Linked DNA regions of Homo sapiens. The gene in region 2 interacts genetically with the main gene of each other region. Each region holds a gene or a part of one and is shown on either strand. Other genes may lie near its edges. The genes, in order: HIF1A and TGFB1.

Region 1 (15,433 bases), on a different chromosome or scaffold from region 2:
TATAGACAGGGTTTTGCCATGTTGGCCAGGCTGGTCTCGAACTCCTGACCTCAGGTTATCCACCTGCCTTGGCACCCGGCCTCTTTTAGTTTCTTTAAAATGTACAATTAAATTATTTTTTACTATAGTCACCCAAAACAAGTACCTTTGACATAAGATTTGATTCTGAATTTTACTCAAATGAATGTTAAGATCCCCAAGATAAGTTAAACTTTGGACTATCTCACCTGTTTAATCTGTACCTATGCATGACTTCCCACTGTGCTTGAGGATACCTGAATATCACTGAGTTTGTGTGACTGATCAGCCTTGAACTCAAGAGTAAATCCAAGTCTGCAGTCAGGACACCCCAATCCTCAAAATAATACCATCATTAGCATTTATTTAGTACTTTCTCCCAAATCAGTATTTAATTTAAATTGCCAAAAGACTTACAATGTGGTATCAATTTATATTTAAATATGCTACATATAGCTTTTTAAAGCATCTTTGGTTCTCTGGAAACCATAGTCAGAATTTAAGGAAGTTATTGTGGCACCATTTTCTTGAAAAAGGCTATTGATTATTCTCTAATCTGACACCAACCTAAGTCATTAAAGGAATTTTAGTTACTGAAGATTGTATATTCATGAACTCTTCACTTAGCTCACTGGCAGCAAAGGAGTTTTATTTAGGGGGTTTGAAAAAGGAAATGGGTACATTTTCAGCTATTCTGGGACGCACTGTCAGAATGTAAGCAGTTACAACTGATTCCACTAAATAAACATTTGTTTTCCAAAACAATGATGAACATTCAGCATCTGTTCATTTAATTGAAAATTCAAAGTTAAAATATTTTCTCTGCATGATTCTTTTTCTTTTCCCCCCTAGTGTTTACTAAAGGACAAGTCACCACAGGACAGTACAGGATGCTTGCCAAAAGAGGTGGATATGTCTGGGTTGAAACTCAAGCAACTGTCATATATAACACCAAGAATTCTCAACCACAGTGCATTGTATGTGTGAATTACGTTGTGAGGTAAGTAAGTTTGAGAAATAAACATTTTTGGGGAACAAATAGTAATTCTTTTTGGATACTCTGTTCATTTATAGGAAGATAAGATAATAAATATTAACTAAATTTTAATTCTTTTACATCGCTACCAAATTATTATTTTCTATACTCTGACCTAGGTTTCCAGTCCAGCTATTCCACAGTGATGCTGCTAAACACTGTCAGTAGTTGTCTATCCCCATACCTTCACTCCTATTTTTAAAAAGACCATGAAAAAAATACCAGATCCATTGATTGGTTTGGTCTAATTATACAGATATCGGCATATACTATCTCAAGACAGCTGTGTTCTTTTTGTAGGAAGAATCCTGGCCTAGATTTGTATCATAGCTCTACCACTCATTAGCTCCCTGACCTTGGGGAAGTCTCTTCATTTTTCTGAATTTCATCTATGTAGATAATCCTTCAGAAGGTTATAATGAAAATTAAATGAAATTCTATGAGATTAGGGAGGGGGGAGGGATAGCATTAGGAGATATACTTAATGTGAATGATGAGTTAATGGATGTAGCACACCAACATGGCACATGTATACATATGTAACAAACCTGCACGTTGTGCACATGCACCCTAGAACTTAAAGTATAATTTAAAAAAGAAAAGAAATTCTATGAGATTAATAAGCTATATGATGTAATACATGGCTCTTGTATATTCATGAACTCTTCACTTAGCTCTTTGGCTTGTGAATATTATGTACATCAAAATTTAATTTTTCATTTGATCTATTTTACTAGACTCCTGCCCCATCTAGTCTACCTGTCCACATTATTACCACATTCTAGTCCATCTTGCCCATTACTACCAGGCTAAGCTTTCTAGTGTGGATATGTCATCATCTTATTTTCCTTAGAATTTTAGCGATCTTTTTATCATTTCCAAGATAAACACTTGCCTAGGTGTACAGCATCCTTGTTTACCATCATACTCACGCATTAGAGATTTAGCCTTCCCTTTAAAATCTAGGGTCACTCCTCTTAGGAAGACTTTGGGCAGTTTTTATTTTTGCTACTTCTGACACCATCCTTTAATGTTTTAATATTAGTGCCACAGAGTTCTTTTGTGACTTTACCATTATGTAAGAATCTTCCACTTGGAATGTCTTTCTCTTCCTCACACCCCAGTCTGCCTAGCAAATGCCACTTGATCCCAAGTATCAGCTTGTTAGCTTCTCAGTGAAGCAAGCCTTCTCTATTTTAGCAGTTATCACAGTGTATTTTAATTGTTTACATATCTACTTTCACAATGGGTTATAAATTTCTTAAGGTCAAGGGTTGGCTATTTTAATCTTTGCATTATCAGTTCATTTCAGATAGTGAACATTTAATACGTTAATTAAAGGAATAATTTACATTTAAGCCAAACGTGAAGATAAACTATTGCTCATCATCCCTCTTCAGCCGTATCCTGTAGGTGGTATCACCTTATATTCTTACCACCAAAGAAAATATGGCCCCTCTCTTAGAAAGATCTTAATCATTTATCTGTGTATCTTTAGGACTATCCTTAGATCATGCCTCACATATTGATGCCAAAGAGTTCTTTTGTGCCAATTTCATAATGTGTGTCAGCACAACAATTCTGAAGATTTGTTGGTGTCTTTCATGTACTTGACTACAAATTGCCTTGCCATTACTACTCTTCTCAAAGGATATCTGAAATTCTTTTTTTCTTTTTTTTTTTTGAGATGGAGTCTCACTGTCACCCAGGCTGGAGTGCAGTGGCGTGATCTTGGCTCACTCCATTTCCCGAGCTCAAGTGATTCTCATGCCTCAGCCTCCCAAGTAGCTGGGACTACAGGTGTGCACCACCACACCGGGCTAATTTTTTGTATTTTTAGTAGAGACAGGGTTTTGCCATGTTGGCCAGGCTCTTGAACTCCCAGGCTCAAGCGATCCACCCGCCTCAGCCTCCCAAAGTCCTGGGATTACAGGCATGAGCCACCACGCCCAGCCTGGATATCTGAAATTCTTAACTGAAATTAGTCAAATTATCTTGTACTGGGGATTTTTTTTTTAATTTCAACTTTTATTTTTGATTCAGGGGATACATGCATAGGTTTGTTACATGGGTATATCATGTGATGCTGAGGTTTGGGGTACAATTGATCCTGTCACCCAGGTAGTGAGCATAATACCCAACAGTTGTTCAACCCTTGCCCCTCTCCCCTAGTAGTCCTCAGTGTCTATTGATGCCATCTTTATGTCCACAAGTAACCCAGTGTTTAGCTCCCACTTACAAGTGAGAACATGCAGCATTTGGTTTTCTGTTCCTGGGTTATCTCACTTAGGATAATGGTCTCTGGATGCATCCATGTTGCTGCAAAGGACATTATTTCATTCTTTTTTATGGTTGCATACTGTGGATTTTATTGGGTCTTTATTTTGTATTAGCATTTTAAAACCCTAAATGTGACACAGTACGCATGAGTGATCATGCATCTCAAGAAATCTTGAAATGTTCCTGTCCATAAAGCAGAATTTTTTAAGAGACCATTTCACAGTCTCCCTTCCCCTCACTGTATCAAGTGCTCATTTGTGAATTACCAATTTCTCTTGTTTTGACAGTGGTATTATTCAGCACGACTTGATTTTCTCCCTTCAACAAACAGAATGTGTCCTTAAACCGGTTGAATCTTCAGATATGAAAATGACTCAGCTATTCACCAAAGTTGAATCAGAAGATACAAGTAGCCTCTTTGACAAACTTAAGAAGGAACCTGATGCTTTAACTTTGCTGGCCCCAGCCGCTGGAGACACAATCATATCTTTAGATTTTGGCAGCAACGGTGAGTAGTTATTTTTGTTAATCCCCTAAATTGTGTCTGTTGCTACAAGCCCCATTTCAACTAAACATTACTTTACGGTTTTTGTTGGTAATCATTTGGACATTACAAGCTAATATATGTTTATAGTTTTCTTAAATGTATTTGCTTAAATATTTTTGCCCCCGTAATTTCTTACCATTCTTGCTTTTTTATACTGTTGGAAATTGTGCTTCAAAGTGTCCTTAAGGTATTTCTTCTTCCCACATAAATTTTTCCTGGCTACTCTATTTCTGTATCCTGCTGTCAGATTTTCTCCACAGTTTAGCAGAGTTATATGGAAGTAGGCATTGTTGCATTAAAGGATAAAAAAGTAGTCATACTATAACATCAAGCATTGAAGATGAAAACTGCAATTTTAAAGTAGAGAACATTTTAATGTATAAAAAGGTTGGTATTGCCTTTTGTCTTTTATGCCATAGAGATTAAGACGCGGTATCAATAGTGGATTGTAAAGGTAACTCAGACTTATGGTTATACTATACTATTGTATGTAAACTTTCTGATGAAGGAAAATTTGGTGACATTTTGTTGTTTGATGAATTAGACAAACCTTTTGTGAAAAAGAACATAAATTTTTTATATGTGAAAATCCTTGTGGCCGGGCGCAGTGGCTCACGCCTGTAATCCCAGCACTTTGGGAGGCCGAGGCGGGTGGATCACTTGAGGTTAGGAGTTCGAGACCAGCCTGGCCACCATGGTGAAACCCCGTCTCTACCAAAAATACAAAAGTTAGCTGGGCGTGGTGGTGTGCGCCTGTAATCCCAGCTACTTGGGAGGCTGAGGCAGGGGAATTGCTTGAACCTGGGAGGCAGAGGTTGCAGTGAGCCAAGATTGCGCCATTGCACTCCAGCCTGGGCAACAGAGCAAGACTCTGTCTTGGGTAAAAAAAAAAAAAAATCCTTCTATACTTTAGATTGACTCATATTTTTTCCCCACAGACACAGAAACTGATGACCAGCAACTTGAGGAAGTACCATTATATAATGATGTAATGCTCCCCTCACCCAACGAAAAATTACAGAATATAAATTTGGCAATGTCTCCATTACCCACCGCTGAAACGCCAAAGCCACTTCGAAGTAGTGCTGACCCTGCACTCAATCAAGAAGTTGCATTAAAATTAGAACCAAATCCAGAGTCACTGGAACTTTCTTTTACCATGCCCCAGATTCAGGATCAGACACCTAGTCCTTCCGATGGAAGCACTAGACAAAGTTCACCTGAGGTAGGTGTCATGATATAATCAGAAAGGGACAACTTTCAGATTTTAACATTCAAGAATGTATTTATAAGTTTGATTCAAACACTTATTTGAACCACAAATTACATTTGTGTGTGTGTTTGAATTTTAGCACTTTAAAATTATTGCAAGAGCTACTGCCTAACCTAGACCTGAGCACATGTTTTAGGCTCAAAGATAGTCAGGAACATGGGAAGAAACTAGCTTAATATAAACCAAAAGGTGAAACGTACATTGTTTCTCTATTATTTATATCAGTAGGACAAAAACATCTTGAATTTGGACATTTAAAGAGAATAGTACTAAGTGTGCTCAAGGTAGCTACAGCCTATACCTGTTACCCCTTTTAGTTTGTTTTATTGTGTTTTGTTTTGTTTTGAGAAAGAGTCTCACTATCACCCAGGCTGGAGTGCAGTGGTGCAATCACAGCCTCAACCTCCCAGGCTCAAATGATTCTCCCACCTCAGCCTCCCAAGTAGCTGGGACTACAGGCCTGCATCACCATGCCTGGCTAATTTTTTAACCTTTTTTTGTGTGTGTGTGTGGAGTTGGGGTTCTCACTATGTTGCTCAGGCTGGTTTTAAACTCCTGGGCTCAAGCGATCCTCCTGCCTTGGCCTCCCAAAGTACTAGGATTACAGGCGTGAGCTACCATGCCTGGCCCATTACCCCTTTGAGTTGGAGAACTGTCTGGTAGCAATAGACTTACGAGGGTTTAAATGGGAAAGGACCTTATAAATTCTTTGCCCAATTTAGTCTAATTTCCATCACTATTTTGAAATTTTGGGTAAGTATAATATGAAAATAACAAGTGTTACATAAAATAAATACTTAGTAACTGGTCTTTTTTATTCTGGATCTGTCTTGATATTAATTGTCCTATGAACACAAAAATAATCTTTAAAGGCTAGGCTGGCCAAGACTTAGAGATATCACACAGGGCTCTATTTCTAAATCTAGAATGATTCCATTTTAGGGCTTCCTACATCTAAAAATATGCTCAGGAGTAGGGCAACTTAGATCTGAACATTATAACTTGATAAATGAGGCATAAATAAGCTTTAATAAGTGGTAAATAATTCTACATTAGGTATTTGTTGAATAAAACTGACAAGCTAAGAGTAGGGGATTTGACATCTCACAGCCTTGTGTTGAATGAATATATATCCTATGCTCTGGTTGCTTAATTTACCCAGAAAAAAAAATGTTTGATTCATCTTGGTTTTTATCTAACAAAAGTAAATCTAACAAAAACGTTAGAATGAGGAAAGCAAAATTTCTTGTTTAGAATACACAGCTATAGTTTTTTGTTAAACTTCTTGCCCAGAACTCTTAAAATAGTAATAATGTACATTCGTTCAGGTATATGCAGGTAAAATAACTTAGGTTTCTACTCCCACCCCCGACAGTAACAGTGAGATTTTTAGGTAGCTCAGTCACCACAGGAGTGTGCCTTCTCAGTTCAAAGGTAAATTCCAGTGAATGTAGCATCTAGTTAATTGGTCAATTAGGTACCATTGTGGGATGTGAATTACCAAATAGGTTTTATTCTTTAGAATAAGGTGTTTCTTTTCATCTCAATTTTGTAAATGATGTTATATTACATAGTCAGAAATATATATATTGGCAAAATTAGTTACCAGTATAAGCTTCAAAATGTCACTATTTTCACAAATTTTTTTTTTTTTTTTTTTTTTTGACATGGAGTCTCACTCTGTCGCCAGGCTGGAGTGCAGTGGCATGATCTTGGCTCACTGCAACCTCTGCCTCCCAGGTTCAAGTGATTCTCCTGCCTCAGCCTCCTGAGTAGCTGGGATTACAGGCGTTTGCCACCATGCCTAGCTAATTTTTGTATTTTTAGTAGAGACGAGGTTTCACCATGTTGGCCAGGATGGTCTCGATCTCTTGACCTCATTATCCCTCCACCTTGGCTTCCCAAAGTGCTGGGATTACAGGCGTGAGCCACTGAGCCCGGCCTAGTTAAATAAAATTTGATAAACACGATGGACTTGGTTGTGTGTTTTCTGGTTTTTCTGAGATCTAGTTTGAAAATTCTGACAACTAGCAAAGTATATGGAAGCTTCTTCAGGAAATAGTAAACATATTTCTTTTTACAGCCTAATAGTCCCAGTGAATATTGTTTTTATGTGGATAGTGATATGGTCAATGAATTCAAGTTGGAATTGGTAGAAAAACTTTTTGCTGAAGACACAGAAGCAAAGAACCCATTTTCTACTCAGGTATATGAACTTATTTGTTTTATATTAAATTTCATTAATTTTTAGTCTGAAGTGACTTTGAGTTTCACTTGTTTTTTATTTATAAGGTGTGGCCATTGTAAAAACTCATGTATTTGCTGTTTTAAAGGACACAGATTTAGACTTGGAGATGTTAGCTCCCTATATCCCAATGGATGATGACTTCCAGTTACGTTCCTTCGATCAGTTGTCACCATTAGAAAGCAGTTCCGCAAGCCCTGAAAGCGCAAGTCCTCAAAGCACAGTTACAGTATTCCAGCAGACTCAAATACAAGAACCTACTGCTAATGCCACCACTACCACTGCCACCACTGATGAATTAAAAACAGTGACAAAAGACCGTATGGAAGACATTAAAATATTGATTGCATCTCCATCTCCTACCCACATACATAAAGAAACTACTAGTGCCACATCATCACCATATAGAGATACTCAAAGTCGGACAGCCTCACCAAACAGAGCAGGAAAAGGAGTCATAGAACAGACAGAAAAATCTCATCCAAGAAGCCCTAACGTGTTATCTGTCGCTTTGAGTCAAAGGTATTTATATGTAACATTCAAGTTATAGTTCTTTTATTATTTTTGAGATAAATGTATGTGATAGTACATGATTTTTAAACTTATAGCAAACTTTCTGATATATATGCCCTAACGCAAATTCTTGAGAACTCAAAAAACTTTCTAAATTAACCTCATATATTTTTTCTTTTTCTTTCTTTTTTTTTTTTTTGAGACAGAGTCTCGCTTTGTCGCCCAGGCTGGAGTGCAATGGCATGGCACCATCTCAGCTCACGGCAACCTCTGCCTCCTGGGTGCAAGAGATTCTCCTGCCTCAGCCTCCCGAGTAGCTGGGATTACAGGCATGCACCACCACGCCCGGCTGATTTTTTTGGTATTTTTCATAGAGACAGGGTTTCTCCACGTTGGTCAGGCTGGTCTCAAACTCCCGACTTCAGGTGATCCGCCTGCCTCAGCCTCCGAAAGAGCTGGGATTACAGGTGTGAGCCACCATGCCCGCTCCTATTTTTTCTAAAATAATTATAAATTCTAAAATTACCTATCTAAATGGAGGAGGGTCTTCTGACACCTTTAAAATAAAATCCAGCTCAGTACTGTAAATGTGTTTACAGAACTTGTTTAAAGTTCTTACAGTTGTTTAAATCAGACTAGTTAACTACCCTCACTACTTAGATGCTTCCATTTCTTAGAGCTCTTTTTTAAGCTTATCTGAAGAAAAGCCCTTCCAATTTAAGGGTTATTTCCAATTGCACATTCCAAATTGAGCCTTCCATCTTCAGCATTCAATATAGATATTTACAGGCCCCTCTTTTAAAATTTTATTATAGTTAACTTGTATTAAAGTTGCTTTTATTTTTCATTACGTATTTGTAGAACATTAGCTATATATATATTGCAGGCTACATAGGTTTTCAAACTGTACAACAGGAATCTAAGCATGAATTGTTACTTCTATGGAGCTAGTTCAAACAAACATATGGACATGACCCAATTTTTAAGTTATACTTTCTGTATATAATTTGTAAGGGGATTTCACATATTTTAAGTTTGAGGCTATAGCTAGAAGAAATTAAGTTTTATCTAATAAGTGTGTGGAAAAGGGAAATGATTCCTTCTCTACTATGTCTAGACTAAGCCAGATATCAATAGCAATAGGAAAGAACCACTGTCGTAGCCAGAACACATAGCTTTTTTCCCTGCCTAACATTCCCACCTTGACCTAGAGTGCTGGGAGAGGTCTTTTCCCTAAGCTTGGAAAAGACATTGGGGCTTTAGATGAACTCAGAAGTACTTTACATTACTTTATTTACTGTGTCACTTACTCACTTTTGACTCTGAGCTCCACGAGGGCAATCACAGTGTCTTGGGCATTTTAGTGATACTAATACTTAGCTCATGACCTAATGTGTAGTACTTCCTCAATAAATGGTTGTTGAGGCAGGGCGCAGTGGCTCATCACTGTAATCTCAGCACTTTGGGAGGCTGAAGCGGGTGGATCACCTGAGGCCAAGAGTTTCAGACCAGCCTGGCCAACATGGTGAAACCCGGTCTACTAAAAATGCAAAAATTAGCTGGGCGTGGTGGCACGTGCCTGTAATCCCAGCTACTTTGGGAGGTTGAGGCAGGAGAATTGCTTGAACCCTGGAGGTGGAGGCTGCAGTGAGCCGAGATCGTGCCATTGCACTCCAGCCTGGGCGAGAAGAGTGAAACTCGGTTTCAAAAAAAAAAAAAAAAAAAAAAGTTGTTGGACTGACAGATGCATGAATACAGTAGTAAAAATGACAATCACTTATAAGTTACAGTTTACTATCAGCTACAGAGGATGGGATATCCAGTTTTCTGAACAACTGTTCTCTTGTACTTGTCAAAGCCAAAGTGTAACAACACATCAAGTCACTTTAGCAATTTATTTTTGAGACGGAGTTTTGCTCTTGTTGCCCAGGCTGGAGTGCAATGGCGTGATCTCGGATCTTGGCTCACCGCAACTGCCGCCTCGCTGGTTCAAGCAAATCTCGTGCCTCAGCCTCCCGAGTAGCTGGGATTACAGGCATGCACCACCACACCCAGCTAATTTTGTATTTTTAGTAGAGACAGTGTTTCTCCAGGTTGATCAGGCTGGTCTCAAACTCCCGACCTCAGGTGATCCACCTGCCTCAGCCTCCCAAAGTGCTGGGATGACAGTTGTGAGCCACTGTGCCCAGCTAGCAACTGTTTTTAAACATTAGTTCCAATGTAGTGTACACTGAAAACTTTTATGAAAGGAATTTCAAAAATTAAGATAAACCATTAAAAACGTAATTACTAAGTACTACTACTACTACAATGATATTTACATAATAGACTGAGTTACATTTCATAAAGACAATATATCTGTATAAGAATTTTTAAACTTCCCTGTCTATATAATAGAAGTTTTAGAGAAATTTTTTAAAAACCAAAGAAAACTGCAAAATAAGATCACTTACCTATTTGGCATTCTCAACTGTCTGGAACAGCAAGGAGCCATTATGATTATGCATTTGGTTTGTGGGGTGTCTTGAAAAGTCAAAATAATGTAACAAAGCTGATGTACTTTACTCATTAGAACAATTCTTCACAATTTAATATTAATTTTAGATATACATAGTTCATGTTTGATAACCAGATCAATACTGAGTGAAAAATAGCATAGTGGGAAGAGCAGGGGAGGGGAGGTAGGGATCTGGAGACCTAGAGTGTACTTCCATATTGCAACTAGTGAGCAGTAGGACTTTGAGAAAGTTACCCAATAGGCCTCAGGGTTCTAATTTATAAAATGGGTATGATATGCCTGCCTTATCTGTCTTGGGAACTTAAGTAAGGTTAAAATGAACTAATGAACTTGAAATGTTTTATAAACTGAAAATGCTATACGAATGTGAGATTGATCTTGTATTTCAATAGTCCCAACAATATCACTGCATTGTTATATTAGGTGGAATAAAAGGACAATATTTAACTGTTTTGACTCTACAATAGTGTCAATTTAGTTGTGTTCAGCTCTATTTTATAAAATAGGGATACGCATACTGTAGAAAATTTCCTGTTAAATTAAGCTTTGACGGCCAGGTGCTCACGCCTGTAATCCCAGCACTTTGGGAGGCCAAGGTGGGCAGATCACTTGCGCTCAGGAGTTTGAGACCAGCCTGAGCAACATAGTGAAATCCTGTCTCTACAAAAATATGTATATATAAATTAGTCATAATCCCAGCTACTTGAGAGGCTGAGGTGGGAGGATCACTTGATTCCAGAGGCAGGGCTTGGTTGCAGTAAGCAGAGATCACGTCTCTGCACTCCAGCCTGGCTGACAGAGTAAGACCGTGTTTCACCAAAAAAAAAAAAAAAAAATTAAGCTTTTACTTTTAAGATGATAAACTTTAGTGATCAGGAAAGTTATCTTATGTATATTATATTCCTTAATATTGGAGAACTAAAGAATTATGTATTTTCTTTAAAAGCGCTCACTGGATATTTTTTTTAAAAACGCTATATTTTCATTTAGAATTTTTTTCTTTTCAGAACTACAGTTCCTGAGGAAGAACTAAATCCAAAGATACTAGCTTTGCAGAATGCTCAGAGAAAGCGAAAAATGGAACATGATGGTTCACTTTTTCAAGCAGTAGGAATTGTAAGTATGAGTAGTAGGTTTTGCTTTTCTAGCTAATGTGCTATTTCGTGTGTGTGTGTGTGTGTGTGTGTGTGTGTGTGTTTCCACGTTTCTTCCAAATAGTAAAGTTATATTTTCAGAAGTTATACATTGGGTTTTTTTACTCTGTATGCACTGGTTTTTAAAAATACAAATGTTTAATACATACATTCTTGGTATAAAAATTCCAAACAATTCCAGTGTATTTTGAGTTAAAAAGTGAAGTTCTCCCCTTACTCCACCCTGAATATCACCACCAATCTCATTCTCTTCCCTTTAAGTTACTTTGCCTTATTAAAAGAACTGCTATTGGCCAGGCACAGTGCCTCACGCCTGTAATCCCAGCACTTTGGGAGGCCAAGATGAGGATCACTTGAGGTCAGGAGTTCGAGACCAGCCTGGCCAACTTGGTGAAACCCTGTCTCTACTAAAAATACAAAAATTAGCCAGGCGTGTTGGTGCACAACTATAATCCCAGCCACTCTGGAGGCTGAGGCAGGAGAATAGCTTGAACCCGGGAGGTGGAGGTTGCGATGAGCTGAGATCAGGCCACTGCACTCCAGCCTGGGTAAGAGAGTGAGAGTCCATCTCATATTTAAAAAAGAACTGCTATGTTTTGGGGTAAGTCAATGGTGGTATAATACATTCTGATATTTTCAAACTAAATTAACTGGAAAGTATTTATAGACAGAATGGTCATAATGGATGACAAATAACTTAAGAAAGAATTCAAAATAATTTAGGGTAGTATTTAAGAAACTGCCTATAATGTTATTAAATTTACACCAATTTCAAGGTTTTTGGTTGTTTAAAAAAAAAATTCAACAAACTAAACTTGAAATAACTTTACTGTTTATAGGGAACATTATTACAGCAGCCAGACGATCATGCAGCTACTACATCACTTTCTTGGAAACGTGTAAAAGGATGCAAATCTAGTGAACAGAATGGAATGGAGCAAAAGACAATTATTTTAATACCCTCTGGTTAGTTTATTCTTTTTGACCTTGAACATCACAAAGACAAAATACATGAAACATTTTTATTTAGGAGCTTTAATCTAAGTGAGAATGACTTTGGTTCCTTAGCAAGATTAAAAAGTAAAGTTGTGGCTGGGCGCGGTGGCTCACACCTGTAATCCCAGCACTTTGGGAGGCCGAGGCAGCCAGATCATCTGAGGTCAGGAGTTGGAGACCAGCCTGGCCACCATGGTGAAACCCCGTCTCTACTAAAAATACAAAAATTAGCTGGGCGTGGTGGCGGGCGCCTGTAATCCCAGCTACTTGGGAGGCTGAGGCATGAGAATTGCTTGAACCCGGAAGGCAGAGGTTGCAGTGAGCCAAGATGGCACCACTGCACTCCAGCCTGGGCGACAAGGGTGAGACTCTGCCTCAAAAAAAAAAAAAAAAAAAAGTACAGTTGTATTTCATGTGATGGTCTTAATACAGAGATTAACATTTCAAGGTGGAGCTTTTCATTTTTAGTAATTTTCTTTGATTTCTCTATGTCCATGTGCTGTCAATATTGATAGAAGCTGAAATTTGTGAACTTTTATGACTTCTTTTTTTTTTTTTTTTTTTTTTGAGACAGGGTCTCGCTCTGTTGCCCAGGCCTGGAGTGCAGTGGCATGATCATAGCTCACTGCAGTCTCAAACTCCTGTGCTCAAGCTCAAGCAATCATCCTACCTCAGCCTCCTGAGTAGCTCGCACTACAGACATGCCTCACCACACCCGGTTGCTTTTTGTAGAGATGGGGTCTCACTATGTTGCCTAGGCTGGTTTCAAACTCCTGGCCTCAAGTGATCCTCCTGCCTCAGCCTGTGCTAGGATTACAGGCATCAGCTTTGATGCCCACCATATTTATGCCTTTTTCCAAATTGTTATTTCTTTGTGCCTTTATTGTATCCTGTAAACATTTCTGACACAGCAACAGTATCACTGGATTATACTTACTTTTTAACATAGTTGTGGTTTTGCCAGGTAAACTAAAAACCCTTCCAGAATTTTGCTTTATTTTCTATGATACCTAACACATTGTGGGTGTTTAATAAATATTCATTGACTAGATGAATGTATACTTAGGTATCTCTTTTGTTTTTCAGATTTAGCATGTAGACTGCTGGGGCAATCAATGGATGAAAGTGGATTACCACAGCTGACCAGTTATGATTGTGAAGTTAATGCTCCTATACAAGGCAGCAGAAACCTACTGCAGGGTGAAGAATTACTCAGAGCTTTGGATCAAGTTAACTGAGCTTTTTCTTAATTTCATTCCTTTTTTTGGACACTGGTGGCTCATTACCTAAAGCAGTCTATTTATATTTTCTACATCTAATTTTAGAAGCCTGGCTACAATACTGCACAAACTTGGTTAGTTCAATTTTGATCCCCTTTCTACTTAATTTACATTAATGCTCTTTTTTAGTATGTTCTTTAATGCTGGATCACAGACAGCTCATTTTCTCAGTTTTTTGGTATTTAAACCATTGCATTGCAGTAGCATCATTTTAAAAAATGCACCTTTTTATTTATTTATTTTTGGCTAGGGAGTTTATCCCTTTTTCGAATTATTTTTAAGAAGATGCCAATATAATTTTTGTAAGAAGGCAGTAACCTTTCATCATGATCATAGGCAGTTGAAAAATTTTTACACCTTTTTTTTCACATTTTACATAAATAATAATGCTTTGCCAGCAGTACGTGGTAGCCACAATTGCACAATATATTTTCTTAAAAAATACCAGCAGTTACTCATGGAATATATTCTGCGTTTATAAAACTAGTTTTTAAGAAGAAATTTTTTTTGGCCTATGAAATTGTTAAACCTGGAACATGACATTGTTAATCATATAATAATGATTCTTAAATGCTGTATGGTTTATTATTTAAATGGGTAAAGCCATTTACATAATATAGAAAGATATGCATATATCTAGAAGGTATGTGGCATTTATTTGGATAAAATTCTCAATTCAGAGAAATCATCTGATGTTTCTATAGTCACTTTGCCAGCTCAAAAGAAAACAATACCCTATGTAGTTGTGGAAGTTTATGCTAATATTGTGTAACTGATATTAAACCTAAATGTTCTGCCTACCCTGTTGGTATAAAGATATTTTGAGCAGACTGTAAACAAGAAAAAAAAAATCATGCATTCTTAGCAAAATTGCCTAGTATGTTAATTTGCTCAAAATACAATGTTTGATTTTATGCACTTTGTCGCTATTAACATCCTTTTTTTCATGTAGATTTCAATAATTGAGTAATTTTAGAAGCATTATTTTAGGAATATATAGTTGTCACAGTAAATATCTTGTTTTTTCTATGTACATTGTACAAATTTTTCATTCCTTTTGCTCTTTGTGGTTGGATCTAACACTAACTGTATTGTTTTGTTACATCAAATAAACATCTTCTGTGGACCAGGCCCCTTTGATCAGCTTTTATGTTCAAATATTAATAATATTTGCTTCAACACCTCCAACTCATAAAATTGTTTACCAACAATTTAAGCACTTATGAAAATTACATGGTACTGGTTATTTCTACATTTATCTTAGTGCCATCACCTTAATGTATGTTGAGTCCCTAAATGTCATGTTAAATAATAACAACCATAATATCCCATTGAAAAGAGTATGTTGTTAGAAAAGAAACATCATTTTTAAGTTTCTGAGCCTATTAAAATGCTCAAACACAAAATATTAGTATTTTTAAAATATGAATGGGATGAGTGAAGCAGTTCTCAGCATTATAGTCACAATGTTACAAAGGCTAGAGCTTCTCTGAAGATTTCTAATCTGTTCCCATTAACAGATTAATAAATTTAGACTTCAAATGAATAATTTGCCCAAGCTTTAAAAGTAATA
Region 2 (15,433 bases):
AGAGACTGACTCCACCCCAGAGCTGTCAGCTCCAAAACTCCTAGAGTTGGGAGCACCAGCTCCCCTCACCTCTGCCAAACCCCTGATCGCCTCCCTTCATTTCTCCCTGCTAGAAATCTATGACAAGTTCAAGCAGAGTACACACAGCATATATATGTTCTTCAACACATCAGAGCTCCGAGAAGCGGTACCTGAACCCGTGTTGCTCTCCCGGGCAGAGCTGCGTCTGCTGAGGCTCAAGTTAAAAGTGGAGCAGCACGTGGAGCTGTACCAGGTGAGGACATGAGCCAGAAGGAAGGTCAGGGCATGGGCTGGAGAGGGTGAGCTGTGACCAAGGGGGTGGCTGTGGGTCGGCTGGTTACAAGGTCCACCTAGATGGTCCCTGAAGGATAGAAGAACACAAACCATACAATCCTAGAACGCTTTTTTTTTTTTTTTGAGACAGTGTCTCACTCTGTTGCCAAGCTGGAGTGCAGTGGTATGACCTCAGCTCACTGCAATCTCCGCCTCCTGGGTTCCAGTGATTCTCCTGCCTCAGCCTCCCAAGTAGCTGGGATTACAGGTGTGCGCCACCACGCCCAGCTAATTTTTGTATTTTTGGTAGAGATGGGGTTTTACCATGTTGGCCAGGATGGTCTCGATCTCCTGACCTCGTGATCCACCTGCCTCGGTCTCCCAAAGTGCTCAGATTACAGGCGTGAGCCACTGCGCCTGGCCTCTTTTTTTTTTTTTTTTTTTTTTGAGATGGAGTCTTGCTCTGTCGCCCAGGCTGGAGTACAATGGGGTGATCTCGGCTCACTGCAACCTCCGCCTCCTGGGTTCAAGTGATTCTCCTGCCTCAGCCACCCGAGTAGCTGGGATTACAGGCATGTGCCAACACGCTGGGCTAATTTTTGTATTTTTAGTAGAGACAGAGTTTTATCATGTTGGCCAGGCTTGTCTCAAACTCCTGCCCTCAAGTGATTCTCCTACCTGAGCCTCCCAGAGTGCTGGGATTACAGGTGTGAGCCACTGCACCCGGAACCTAGAGCACTTTTAAATGTTCAGACTCTTTGCATCCTAGGATGTTAAACACTTAGAAGGCTGGAATCTTAGGAGTTGGACTCTTTAAGGACACAGGATTCTTGAAAGTTGGAATCTCTGAAAAGGTTGGGGGCTCTAGAATCATTCTGTCCAATATGACAGCCACTAGTCACATTTAGCTTGATTAAAATTTAAATTGTTTAAAATTAAATTAAAAATTTAGGGCCAGGCATAGTGGCTCACACCTCTAATCCCAGAACTTTGGGAAGCCGAGGCAGGCAGATTGCTTGAGCCCAGGAGTCCGAGACCAGTCTGGGCAACATGTTGAAACTTCGTCTCTACAAAAAATACTAAAATTAGCCTGTTATGGTGATGCGTGCCTCTAGTCCCAGCTACTCAGTAGTCTGAGGTGGGAGGATTGATTGAGCCCAGGAGGTCGAGGCTGTAGTGAACTGTGATTGCACCACTGCATTCCAGCCTGGGTGATGGAGCGAGACCGTCTCAAAAATATATATATATAGGCCAGGCGTGGTGGCTCATGCCTGCAATCCCAGCACTTTGGGAGGCCAGGGTGGGTGGATCACTTGAGGTCAGGAGTTCAAGACCAGCCTGGCCAACATGACGAAACTCCATCTCTACTAAAAATACAAAAATTAGCCAGGTGTGGTGGCAGGCACCTGTAATCCCAGCTACTTGGGAGGCTGAGGTGGGAGAATCGCTTGACCCCAGGAGGTGGAGACTGCAGTGAGCGGAGATCATACCACTGCACTCCAGCCTGGGCAACAGAGCGAGACTCTGTCTCAAAAAAATAAAAATGAAAAAGAAATCCTCATTCTCACTGGCCATATTTCTAGTACTCTATAGTCACATGTGGTTAGCAGCTACTATTTTGGATGTTGCAGATAAAGCACATTTCCAGAAAGTTCTTTAGGACAGCACTGCTCTAGAAGATAGGGAGCTTCCAAGAGGACTGGGGCATCTGGAAGGGCTGGAGGCTCTAGCAGTTTCTATGAGCTAGAATCCATATCAGAGGGAATGTTAACTCATAGGATGGTAGATTTCAGACTTTCACAGTGAGAGAACTTTGTCCTATGTTAGCTTGGCTTCTTGGAGTCTGGGGAATTCAGCTTTATTCTGCAGTCCCTGGAGTGGACTATCCAGCCCCAGAAAATTCTTCTTTTTTTTGTGTGTGTGTGTGATGGAGTTTTGCTCCTGTTGCCCAGGCTGGAGTGCAATGGCACCATCTTGGCTCACCACAACCTTTGCTTCCTGGGTTCAAGCGATTCTCCTGCCTCAGCCACCCGAGCAGCTGGGATTACAGGCATGCACCACCACACCTAGCTAATTTTGTATTTTTAGTAGAGACGGTGTTTCTCCATATTGGTCAGGCTGGTCTCGAACTTCTGACCTCTGGTGATCCACCCTCCTCGGCCTCCCAAAGTGCTGGGATTACAAGCGTGAGCGACTGTGCCTGGCCCAGAAAATTATTCTACACAGATGTTGGGTACCTGCAGCATCTAGGTGCGGCATGGCAGACTCTTGGGTTTATAGAACATTAGTCTTCTAAAGCTTCTCAGGCTCTAGAAGTGGAAATCTTGGGATATTATCAAACATTTGAATCACAAAATGACTTTTTTTTTTTTTGAGACAGAGTCTCACTCTGTCACCCTGGCTAGAGTGCAGTGGTGCAATCTCGGCTCACTGCAACCTCTGTGTCTTGGGTTCAAGTGATTCTCCTGCCTCAGCCTCCTGAGTAGCTGGGATTACAGGCGTGTGCCACCACGCCTGGCTAATTTTTGTATTTTTAGTAGAGACGAGGTTTCACTTTGTTGGCCAGGCTGGTCTTGAACTCCTGACCTCAGGAGATCCACCCGCCTTGGCCTCCCAAAGTGCTGGGATAACAGGCGTGAGCCACCGTGCCCAGCCGGAATCATTAGAAATGACTTCTAAGTTACTGAGAATTCAGGGTGTCAAATTTGCAGAACCGTATGCTCAGTAAACCCCAGAATGTTTGCAGCAGAATTTTATTTTATTTATTATTATTATTTTGAGACGAAGTCTCGTCCTGTCGCCCAGGCTGGAGTGCAGTGGCGTGATCTTGGCTCACTGCAGTCTGTGTCTCCCGGGCTCAAGCAATTCTCCTGCCTCAGCCTCCCAAATAGTGGCGACTACAGGCGTGTGCCACCATGCCTGGCTAATTTTTGTATTTTTAGTAGAGATGGGGTTTCACTATGTTGGCCAGGCTGGTCTTGAACTCCTGACCTCAAGTGATCCACCCACCTTGGGCTCCCAAAGTGCTGGGATTACAGGCGTGAGCCACTGCGCCCGGCCCAGAATGTTAGCAGCAGAATTTTAGCATTGTGGGCTGTCCACGCTGAGTGGGGCTTAGCATTTCACCAATGAGGAAACAGGCCTCGAGAAGGCAAGAAAACACCTTCGGCTGAGCTGTGTGAAGGTGACTTGACCGCAGCCTGAGCTTTTTCTCCACCCCTCCTCTCATGGGTACTGTTGGGGAGGATGGGTGCCACAGGACCACACAGGTGGCTGTCTGAGAGGGTAGTGCCTGGGAACTTTCTGGAAGCCTGTTTGGGGAAGCAGATGGGGTGAAGGATTCAGTTAGTGTATGTGGGGTCGTGACACCATCTACCCACTGTCTCTCTCCTGCCTTCATCATCCTCTAGAAATACAGCAACAATTCCTGGCGATACCTCAGCAACCGGCTGCTGGCACCCAGCGACTCGCCAGAGTGGTTATCTTTTGATGTCACCGGAGTTGTGCGGCAGTGGTTGAGCCGTGGAGGTGAGGATTACTTGTGTGTCCCACCCCTGTTTCTCCCTGGGGTCCACCCCATTGTTTGTCCTGGGGTCACTTTGCCTAGGACCCCTCTCCGCCCCATACTGGTGTGAAAGTGCTGAGACCTGGCTCCCCTCTGTGGCATGGAAACCTGAGTGATTGGCTAATCTGTTTCCTGAGCACCTCTCTGCCCTGCCCTGTGATGGGTGATGCCAAGGACACAGCAATGACCAAAACAGCCCCATCCTTGCCCTCACAGAGCTCATATAGTCCATTGGCTAGGTAGCTGGGGAACAGACCTGTAAGGCAGTGATGACCCAGAGTGGGTGGGACTGGGATGGGGAGCCCAAAGGAGGTACCTGACCCAGCCCAGAATCAGGGAGGGCTTCCTGGAGGAGGGGCACCATAGCTGATGTTGAAGGGATGAGTAGAATGGTCAGGAAAAGGAGAGGTGTAAGAGTATTCTGGGGCTGGGCATGGTGGCTTATGCCTATAATCCCAGCACTTTTGAAGGCCAAGGAGGATGGATCACTGGAGCTCAGGAGTTTTGAGAGCAGCCTGGGCAACATGGCGAAACCCGGTCTCTACACAAAAATACAAAAATTAGCCATGCATGCTGTTACGTGCCTGTAGTTCCAGCTGCTTGGGAGACTGAGGTGGGAGAATCACCTGAGCCTGGGAGGTCGAGGCTGCAGTGAGTCATAATCACACTACTGCAATCCAGCCTACATGAAAGAGTGAGATCCCATCTCAAAAAAAAAAAAAAAAAAAAGATTCCAGGCAAAGGGAACAGCCTGTGCAAAGGCCTGGAGGCCAGGGAGAGCCTAACTAACTCATTTGATCTGTCCAGGAGATGATTGTCTCTGTCTGGTTTCTGGCAGGGCCCATGGTGCCCCTATCTCTCTCCCTCACCTCCCTCTCATTTATGCTTTTATTCAATAATTGCCCACAGGTTCCTGCTGTGTGCCTGGCCATGTGCTGGGTGGTGTGGGGGACATAGTGATAACCAAGACAGCCCTCAGTTCTGCCCTCATGGGGCCCACAGTCACTTCTGGACACCTAAGAGATCTTGTCAAGGCCCCACCAGGCAGGAATGACCTAGAATGATCAAGAATGGGATGGGGAGGCACCAGCAGGGAGGACAAGGCTGGGACAGGGAGGCATGCAGGATGGGGGAACGCCCTAAGTGCTGTTGGGAGCCCAGAGAAGGCACCTGGACCCATCTGGGGAGTCTAGGAGGGCTTGCTGGGTGAGGGTGATTGTGTGGAGACTCACAGGATAAATAGTAGTTTGGCCACATGAAAAAAAAGGGATTAGGGGGCCTGGCATGGTGGCTCACGCCTGTAATCCCAGCACTTTGAGAGGCCGAGGTGGGTGGATCACCTGAGATCGGGAGTTCGAGACCAGCCTGACCAACATGGAGAAACCCCGTCTCTACTAAAAATACATAATTAGCTCGGCGTGGTGATGCATGCCTGTAATCCCAGCTACTCGGGAGGCTGAGGCAGGAGAATTGCTTGAACCCAGGAGGTGGAGGTTTCAGTGAGCCAAGATCGTGCCATTGCACTCCAGCCTGGGCAACAACAGTGAAACTCCGTCTCAAAAAAAAAAAAGAAAAGAAAAAGAAAAAATAGGGATTAGGGAGCAGGTGGGCACTGGGAGGAGTGTCCTGGGCTGTTCGACAAAGGCCTAGAAGGAGCTCATCTGTCTTGGTCAATGCTGAGTCCCAAGCACACAGCACAGGCTTCGGCACATTGTAGGAGCCTAGAAAACATCATTCACTCATTCATTCAAGAGATTGATGCTGGCTGGGTGCAGTGGCTCATGCCTGTAATCCCAGCACTTCGGGAGGCCAGGGCAGGAGGATTGCTTGAGCCCAGCCTGGGCAACATAGTGAGACCTCTGTCTCTACAGAGAATTTAAAAAGTAGCCGTGTAGGCCGGATGCAGTGGCTCAAGCCTGTAATCCCAGCACTTTGGGATGCCAAGGCAGGCGGATCACCTGAGGTCAGGAGTTTGAGACCAGCCTGGCCAGCATGGTGAAACCCCATCTCTACTAAAAATACAAAAAATTAGCCGGGTGTGGTGGCGCATGCCTGTTATCCCAGCTACTTGGGAGGCTGAGGCAGGAGAATCGTTTGAACCTGGGAGGTGGAGGTTGCAGTGAGCTGATATCACGCCACTGAACTCCAGCCTGGGCAACAGAGCCAGACTCCATCTCAAAAAAAAAAAAAAAATTAGCCATGCGTGGTAGCACGCGCCTGTGGTCCCAGCTACTCGGGAGGCTGAGATGGGAGGATTGCTTGGGCCTTGGAGATTGAGGCTGCGAGACCTTGTCTCAAAAAAAAAAAAAAAAAAAAAAAGAGAGAGCTGCAGTGAGAGGGCAGAGTGGGGTGGGTGGGGGAGGCAGGAAGGAAGCCCCTGGGGTTTGCTCCTTCCTTCCTCTTCCTCCAGGGGCTGGGTGAGCTGCACTCTCAGACTGGCTTCCCTCTCGCCACTCCTACAGGGGAAATTGAGGGCTTTCGCCTTAGCGCCCACTGCTCCTGTGACAGCAGGGATAACACACTGCAAGTGGACATCAACGGTGAGGCCTGCTTCCCCGGCCATGCCCAGTTGTGACGTGTGTGCGTGTGTGTGTTCCCATCTGCCCCACGCCCCACTTATCTATCCCTCTGAGAGTGTGTGTGTATGTCCCCTATCCCCTGACTCCCACACCAAAGCAGGGTTCACTACCGGCCGCCGAGGTGACCTGGCCACCATTCATGGCATGAACCGGCCTTTCCTGCTTCTCATGGCCACCCCGCTGGAGAGGGCCCAGCATCTGCAAAGCTCCCGGCACCGCCGAGCCCTGGACACCAACTATTGCTTCAGGTGAGCCTTGTAGCCTGGATGGAGGCCTTCCAGGCTGGGGGCATGACTGCCATCTGCTGACCAGGTGCTCCAGGTTGGACACCTGGCTGCTGCTGTGCTTGGGCTGAGCATCTGTCTCCTTTAGCTTGGAGGGCTCAGGGGATGAGGTCTGGGTGTAAGAACCAGGAGTCTTGTGCCAGGTGCGGTGGCTCACGCCTGTAATCCCAACACTTTGGGAGGCTGAGGCAGGTGGATCACCTGAAGTGAGGAGTTTGAGACCTGTCTGGCCAACATGGTGAAACCCGTCTCTACTAAAAATCCAAAAATTAGCCAGGCGTGGTGGGCGCCTATAATCCCAGCCACAAAAAACAAAAAAAGAACTGGGAGTCTTGTAATGTTGGGATCAGGTTCCTTTTTTTTTTTTTTTTTTTTTTTTTGAGACAGAGTCTCGCTCTGTCACCTGGGCTGGAGTGCAGTGGCGCTATCTTGATTCACTGCAAGCTCCACCTCCCGGGTTCACACGATTCTCCTGTCTCAGCCTCCCGAGTAGCTAGGACTACAGGCACGTGCCACCACGCCCAGCTAATTTTTTTGTATTTTTAGTAGAGATGGGGTTTCACTGTGTTAGCCAGGATGGTCTCCATCTCCTGACCTCGTGATACACCCACCTCAGCCTCCCAAAGTGCTGGGATTACAGGCGTGAGCCAACGCGCCCGGCCTAATTTTTTGTATCTTTAGTAGAGACTGGGTTTCACCATGTTAGCCAGGATGGTCTTGATCTCCTGACCTCGTGATCCGCCTGCCTCAGCCTCCCGAAGTGCTGGGATTACAGGTGTGAGCCACCACGCCCAGCCTTGCTTTCTTGCTGGAGTGTTGGAATCACAGAATGTTAGAAAGTTGAACCCTGTGATTGTTGGAATTCAAAGTTGGAAGGTCACCATCTTGAATCCCTAAATTGTTGGCAGGTTGAGGTTCTAGAATGCTGGGATTCTAGAATGCTAGAATTTGGTGTTAATTACTGAAATGGAAAATGTCGGACTCAAGGAAAGCTGAAACATTGGAATCCTAGAATTTGGGGATTCAAAATGGGAAGATGGCCCATGTGGAATTCCTGCACCACTGGCCAATTGTGGATACCAGTGTTGGCAGATTGGAGTCCTTGAATATTGGGCTCACAGTGGTAGAATTCTGTTTTGAAATATTCACATCCACAAATGTTGGAGTTGGAGAAAGCAGAATATTGGTATCTCAGCATGTTGGAACTCAGTGTTGGAATGTTAGAATATTAGAATGCTGGGATTTTATTAATAGAAAGTGGCAGCAGGCTGGGCGCGGTGGCTCACGCCTATAATTCCAGCACTTTGGGAGGCTGAGGTGGGCGGATCCCTGAGGTCTGGAGTTCAAGACCAGCCTGGCCAACATGGTGAAACCCCATCTCTATTAAAAATACAAAAATTAGCCAGGTGTGGTGGCTGGCACCTGTAATCCCAGCTACTCGGCTGGGATTACGGCTATCCAGGTACCCAGGCTGGGGCAGGAGAATCACTGGAACCTCGGGGGTGGAGGTTGCAGTGAACCGAGATCGCGCCACTGCACTCCGGCCTGGGCAATGATGCGAGACTCCATCTAAAAAAAAAAAAAAAAAAAAAAAAGAAAGAAAGTGTCAGTTTGAACCTCTTGAGTGATGGCTCAGAACTTTGGAATGTTGGGATGCAATACTGGCATACTGGAATTCAGGAATGCCAAGATCCTCAAAGGTTGGAAAGGGGGAATCCTAGAGAGTTGAAGATGCTGTCAGAATGTTAGAATCATAAGATGCTGGAATGCTAATACTGCAATCTAAGAAAGCTGAAATGTTGGATTCCTAGAAAGTTGAAATGGAGAGTTAGAATGTTGTAAATTTAGAGTGATCATCTGACCTTATTCCTCCCTTGCTTAAAATATTTTGGTCCTGTCTCTGGGCTTTGTTACCGGCTGTTTCCCTGCCAGAAAATCAGCCCTGCTCCCAGGCTCCTTCACCACCAGATCTTAGCGCCATCAGCCCAGCAACGCTGTCAATGAACAAATTGAGGTCTTTTTTGAGACAGAGTCTCGCTCTGTTGCCCAGGCTGGAGTGCAGTGGCGTGATCTCGGCTCACTGCAACCTCCGCCTCCCAGGTTCAAGTGATTCTCCTGCCTCAGCCTCCTGAGTAGCTGGGATTACAGGCGTGTGCCACCACACCCGGCTAATTTTTGGTTTTTTTAGTAGACACTGGGTTTCACCATGTTGGTCAGGCTGGTCTCGAACTCCTGACCTCGTGATCCACCCGCCTCGGCCTCCCAAAGTGCTGGGATTACAGGCATGAACCACTGCGCCCGGCCACAAATTGAGGTCTTGAGTGCCAACAGCTCCTGACATTACAAAGGGAGATAGCCAGCCATGTCAGCCTCCGTAGGGAGGGACCCAATGTTGCCTAGGAAGTCTTGGCAAAAAATCAAACCTGAAGGCCAGGTGCGGTGGCTCATGCCTGTAATCCCAGCACTTTGGGAGGCCAAGGCAGGCAGATCGCTTGAGCTTAGGAGTTCAAGACCAGCTTGTGCAACATGTTAAAACCCTGCCTCTGTACAAGAAATACAAAAAAACTAGCTGGCTGGGTGGTGTGTGCCTGTAGTCCCAGCTACTTGGGAGGCTGAGGCAGGAGTGCTTGAGCCTAGGAGGTTGTGGCTGCAGTCAGCCAGGATCACGCCACTGCATTTCAGGACAGAGCAGGACCTTGTCTCAGGAAAAAAAAAAAAAAATCAAACCTGAATCTGATCAGGACTGTAGATCCTAACAGTTTTCTAGAAAGACAGGAACAGAGGAAATGGTCAGCAAAACTCAGACTGCAAGAAACCTCACCCAGTTTCTTCATCAAATACAATGCAAAGAAGGGGAAAGCACACACACACACACACGTACCCCCCATGCAACCAAAAATTCACATACAAGTTTTGACTCCCCAAAAACTTAACTATTAATAGCCTACTGTGGACTGGAATTCTGCTTTATCCACAACATAAACAGTTGATTAATACTTTTTTTTTTTTTTGGAGACAGAGTCTCTGTCATTCAGGCTGGAGTGCAGTGGTGCGGTCTCGGCTCACTGCAGCTTCTGCCTCCCGGGTTCAAGTGATTCTCTTGCTTCAGCCTCCCGAGTAGCTGGGACCACAGGTGCCCACCGCCACGCCCAGCTAATTTTTTGTATTTTAGTAGAGATGGGGTTTCACCGTATTGCCCAGGCTGGTCTTGAACTCCTGAGGTCAGGCAATCCGCCCACCTCAGCCTCCCAAAGTGCTAGGATTACAGGCATGAGCCACTGCTCCCGGCCGAATAATACATATTTTGCATGTTTTATGTATTATGTCCTATATCCCCTTTTTTTTTTTTTGAGACGGAGTTTCGCTGTTGTCACTCAGGCTGGAGTGTAATGGCACAATCTCAGCTCACGGCAACCTCCACCTCCCGGGGGTTCAAGCAATTCTCCTGCTTCAGCCTCCTGAGTAGTTGGGATTATAGGCACCTGCCACCATGCCCGGCTAACTTTTGTATTTTTAGTAGAGGTGGGGTTTCACCATGTTGGCCAGGCTGGTCTTGAACTCCTGACCTCAAGTGATCTACCCGCCTCAGCCTCCCAAAGTGCTGGGATTGCAGGGGTGAGCCACGCACCCGGCCGTATTCTTTGTTTTTTTTTTTGAGACAGAGTCTAGCTGTGTCACCCAGGCTGGAGTGCAGTGAAGTGATCTCAGCTCACTGCAACCTCCGCCTCCCAGGTTCAAGCAATTCTCCTGCCTCAGTCTCCCAAATAGCTGTGATTTCAGGCATCCGCCATCGCACCCGGGTAATTTTTGTATTTTTAGTAGAGACGGGGTTTCACCATGTTGGCCAGGCTGGTCTTGAACTCCTGACCTCAGGTGATCCATCAGCCTCGGCCTCCCAAAGTGCTGGCCTTACAGGCTTGAACCACTGCTCCCGGCCTATGCCTGCATTTTAAAAATAAGATAGAGAAAAGAAAATGTCCTTAAGAAAATCATAAGGAAGAGGAAGTATATTTTCCATTCATTGAGTGGAAGTGGCTTATCATAAAGGTCTTCATGTTGAGTAGGCTGAGGAGGAGGAAGAAAAGGTGTTGGTCTTGCTGTCTCAGGGCAGAGGTGGAAGAAAAATTCACCTGTAAGTGGTGAATTTTGTAAGAGGACCCATGTAGTTCAAACCCATGTCCAAGGGTCAGTCTATATATAGTTGACCCTGAATATATATACAGAGAGAGAGAGAGATGATTTTGTAGATTTTGAAAAAAGTCCTAAGAGAGGCCAGGTATGGTAGCTCACACCCGTAATCCCAGCACTTTGGGAGGCTGAGGCAGGTGGATCACTTGAGGTCAGGAGTTGGAGACCAGCCTGGCCAACATGGTGAAACCCTGTCTGTACTAAAAATACAAAAATCAGGCCAGCTGTCGTGGCTCACACCTGTAATCCCAGCACTTTGGGAGGCCAAGGTGGGTGGACCACCTGAGGTCAGGAGTTCGAGACCAGTCTGGCCAACGTGGTGAAACCTCCTCTCTACTAAAAATTCAAAAATGAGCCAGGCGTGGTGGCGGGCCCTGTAATCCCAGCTACTCTTGAGGCTGAGGCAGGAGAACTGCTTGAACCCAGGAAGTGGAGGTTGCAGTGAGCCGAGGTCGCGCCATTGCACTCCAGCCTGGGCAACAAGAGTGAGACTCCCGTCTCAAAAAAATAAATAAATAATTAAAAATACAAAAATTAGCAGGGTATGGTGGCAGGCGCCTGTAGTCTTAGCTACTTGGGAGACTGAGGCAGGAGAATCACTTGAACCTGGGAGGCACAGGTTGCAGTGACCCGAGATTGCACCACTTCACTGCATCCTGGGTGACAGAGTGAGACTCCATCTCAAAAATTAAAAAAAAAAAAAAATCCTAAGAGACATATCAACCAATTGCAATGTGTAGACCTTACTTGAATCCTTATTTACACAGGCTTAAAAAAAAAAGATATTTATGAGACAGTTGGGTAAATGTGAACTCTGTCTAGATATTCCTCTAGATATCAAGGAATTGTTAATTTTCTTACATGGTATTGTGACTGTGTTTTAAAGTAGTCTTAATTAGAGATACATTTGAAATATTTATGGATGAAGCAACACGGTGGATTGCATGTGCTTTGAGATAAACCATTGTCGGCTGGCTGCAGTGGCTCACAGCTATAATCCCACCACTTTGGGAGGCCAAGGCAGGAGGATTGCTTGAGCCTAAGAGTTGGAGACCAGCCTGGGCAATATGGTGAAACCCCATCTCCCAAAAAAAAAAATATGAAAAGTAGCTGGGCCTGGTGGTGTGTACCTTTTGTCCCAGCTACTCAGGAGGCTGAGGTGGGAGGTTGGCTTGAGCCCCAGGAGCTGGAGGCCACAGTGAGCTGTGATTGCACCACTGCACTCCAGCCTGGGTGACAGAGTGAGATCCTGTCTCAAAAAAAAAAAAAAAAGAGATAGTGGATAGGGGTAGAGATGCAATGGAAATTGGCCATGAGTTGGTCATTGTTGAAGCTGCTTTTGTGTACATCTGAAACTTTCCAGCTGGACGCGGTGGCTCACACCTGTAATCCCAGCACTTTGGAAGGCTGAGGCGGGTGGATCACATGAGGTCAGGAGTTCGAGACCAGCCTGTCCAACATGGTGAAACCCTGTCTCTACTAAAAATACAGAAAAATTAGCTGGGTATGGTGGTGTGTGCCTGTAATCCCAGCTACTTGGGAGGCTGAGCCAGGAGAATTGCTTGAACTTGGGACATGGAGGTTGCAGTGAGCCAAGATTGCACCACTGCACTCCAGCCTGGGGCAACAGAGCAAGACTCCATCTCAAAAAAAAAAAAAAAAAACTTTCATAGGAAAATTTGTTCTTAAGGCAGCTCGAACACTACCTCCTTCCTAACCCCTTTCTCCAACATCCAAGATGGATGTGAGGCCTCTGGGCTCCCCTGGGGCCCTAAGTAGATCTTTGACTCAACAAACAGTCTCTGTTGGGTCTTTTATTTATAAAAAGTTTTGTAGCGACAGGGTCTCACTATGCTCCCCAGGCTGGTCTTAAACTCCTTGGGCTCAAGCGATTCACCGGTCTTGGCTTCCCAAAGTGCTGAGATTACAGGCGTGAGTCACTGCACCTGGCCTAGGTCTTGAGAGACTGGACGGAAGAGGCTTGGCAAGGGCAAGGGCTGTGGGTATCCCAAGGCCCGGTGCAGGGTAGGCCCCGAATGTGTGCTGAAAAAATGAGTCAGAGGATCACCTAGACGGCTTGTTCAACACGGACTGTTGTTCCCAGTCCTGCACACAATTTCTGATTTCAGTGGCCTGGGGTGCCACCTGAGAATCTGCATTTCCCATAGTTCCCAGGTGATGCTGCCGCTGGTCCTGGGAGCTCACGTGGAGAGCTGCTGACTTGGATAACAGTATCACAGATTGTTCAAATCCTAGGATCTCAGAACCCCAGCTAGGGTTGAACTGCATATTAAAGATGATTCTGAGCCGGGTGCGGTGGCTCATGCCTGTAATCCCAGCACTTTGGGAGGCCGAGGTGGGTGGGTCACCTGAGGTCAGGAGTTTGAGACCAGCCTGACCAACATGGTGAAACCCAGCCTCTACTAAAAATACAAAAAATTAGCCAGGCATGGTGGCACATGCCTGTAATCCCAGGTACTTGAGAGGCTGAGGCAGGAGAATTGCTTGAACCCGGGAGACGGAGGTTGCAGTGAGCTGAGATCACACCATCGCACTCCAGCCTGGGCAACAGGAGGGAAACTCCATCTCAAAAAAAAAAAAAGATTCCGGACACTAGTTCTTCCCCTTTTGTGAGTTCAGAACTTCCTGTGAGAAAGTGAAAGCCAGGACTCTTTTTCCCAGAAATACATGCATACATACACACATGTGCATATGATCTCAGGCACTCATGGCCCTCCCTAAGCCTGCCCATGATGGCCCCTTGGCCCTCAGCTTAACACCTTATTTTATCTAGTAGCTCCTACCTCTGAACAGATGAGGAAACTGAGGTCCAACCAAATTGGGTGGTACGGGCTGAGTTCACAGGGATCTCAGTTTCTTGACTTCCTTCTCAGGCTTCTGTGGCTCTTGGAAAGGCTTTATCTTGCCTCTAGGTTATCCGGTGCCACTTGAAGTTGGGTTCAAGCGATTCTCCTGCCTCAGACTCCCCAGTAGCTGGGATTACAGGTGCCCGCCACCAGGTCCAGCTAATTTTTGAATTTTTAGTAAAGACAGGGTCCTCAAGTCTGCCTGCCCTAGCCTCCCAAAGTGCCGGGATGACAGGCGTGAGCCACCGTGCCTGGCTGGCCCCACCAATCTATGAGCAGAGGTTGCAGTGAGCCAAGATTGCACCACTGCACTCCAGCCTGGGTGACGGAGCAAGACTCTGTCTCAAAAAAAAAAAAAAAAAAAAAAGGCATTGTCAACTTTTTCTTTTCTTTTCTTTCTTTTTTCTTTTCTTTTCAAGACAGAGTCTCACCCTGTTGCCCTGGGTGGAGTGCAGTGGCACGATCTTGGCTCACTGCAACCTCTGCTTCTTGGGTTCAAGCAGATTCTTGTGCCTCAGCCTCCTGAGTAGCTGGGATTACAGACAAGCACCGCCACACCCAGCTAATTTTTGTATTTTTAGTAGAGACGGGGTTTCGCCATGTTGGTCAGGCTGGTCTCAATCTCCTGATCTCAGGTGATCCACCCGCCTTGGCCTCCCAAAGTGCTGGGATTACAGGCGTGAGCCACTGCACCCGGCCTCTTTGACAGTTCTAAGAAGTAAAATAAACCAGAAGAAGGCAGGCAGAGAGTAATAGATATTGGGAACTGTTATTTTTCCTATTCTGATTTAAATTCCTTTATTATGGAAAATTTCAAATGTATACAAAAGCAATGAAGATAATGAATGCCCGTAAACTCTCATCCAGCGTCATCGGTAATTAAGATTTTGCCCCATTTCAAATGCAGACATTTTTATATTTTCTTGCATAACTGCAATACCGTATTGCACTAAATGGAACTAACAGTCACTTGGATATTTTGGAAAGGATGGCTCAGAAAGGTATCTCTGAGGAGGTGATGTTCAGTCATGTAACTGATATTTACTAGTACCTACTGCATTCCAGACACTGCTTTAGGAGTTAAGGGTCCCTGAGTGAAGGACATTTGAGCTAAGGTTTAAATGAAGTGAAGGGGCCAGGTGTGGTGGCTCATGCCAGTAATCCCAATGCTTTGGGAGGCCGAGGCGTGCGGATCGTTTGAGCCCAAGTTCGACACCAGCCTCAGCAACATAGTGAGACCGTGTCTCTAAAAAGAATAACAAATTAAAAAGAATAAATAGGCCAGATGCAGTGGCTCAGGTCTGTAATACCAGCACTTTGGGAGGCTGAGGTGGGCGGATCACAAGGTCAGGAGTTCGAGACCAGCCTGGCCAACATGGTGAAACCCTGTCTCTACTAAAAAGACAAAAAAATTAGCCGGGCATGGTGGCACACGCCTGTAATCCCAGCTACTCGGAAGGCTGAGGCAGGAGAATCGCTTGAACCTGGGAGGCGGAGGTTGCAGTGAGCCGAGATCATGCCACTGCACTCCAGCCTGGCAGACAGAGTGAGACTCTGTCTCAAAAAAAAAAAAAAAAAAAAATAGAAAAAAAAAGAAGAAATGAAGTGAAGGAACAAGCTGGAGTGGGTATCTGTGGGACTAGCAAGGCAGGCAGA

The links.
Region 1: of TGFB1 (region 2) and HIF1A, changing one enhances a phenotype caused by changing the other (phenotypic enhancement), as found in Homo sapiens cells (one study listed by BioGRID).

The regions. Positions count from the first base shown.
Region 1 is NC_000014.9:61,733,268-61,748,700, forward strand, and holds the end of HIF1A (hypoxia-inducible factor 1-alpha), read left to right. Parts: intron 1-870; coding exon 871-1,018; intron 1,019-3,621; coding exon 3,622-3,842; intron 3,843-4,819; coding exon 4,820-5,106; intron 5,107-7,237; coding exon 7,238-7,360; intron 7,361-7,487; coding exon 7,488-7,921; intron 7,922-11,437; coding exon 11,438-11,546; intron 11,547-12,423; coding exon 12,424-12,550; intron 12,551-13,666; coding exon 13,667-13,818; 3' UTR 13,819-14,991; downstream 14,992-15,433.
Region 2 is NC_000019.10:41,333,136-41,348,568, reverse strand, and holds part of TGFB1 (transforming growth factor beta-1 proprotein preproprotein), read left to right. Parts: intron 1-113; coding exon 114-274; intron 275-3,704; coding exon 3,705-3,822; intron 3,823-6,321; coding exon 6,322-6,399; intron 6,400-6,535; coding exon of another isoform or gene 6,536-6,538; coding exon 6,539-6,686; intron 6,687-15,433. UniProt on the Homo sapiens protein: Transforming growth factor beta-1 proprotein: Precursor of the Latency-associated peptide (LAP) and Transforming growth factor beta-1 (TGF-beta-1) chains, which constitute the regulatory and active subunit of TGF-beta-1, respectively.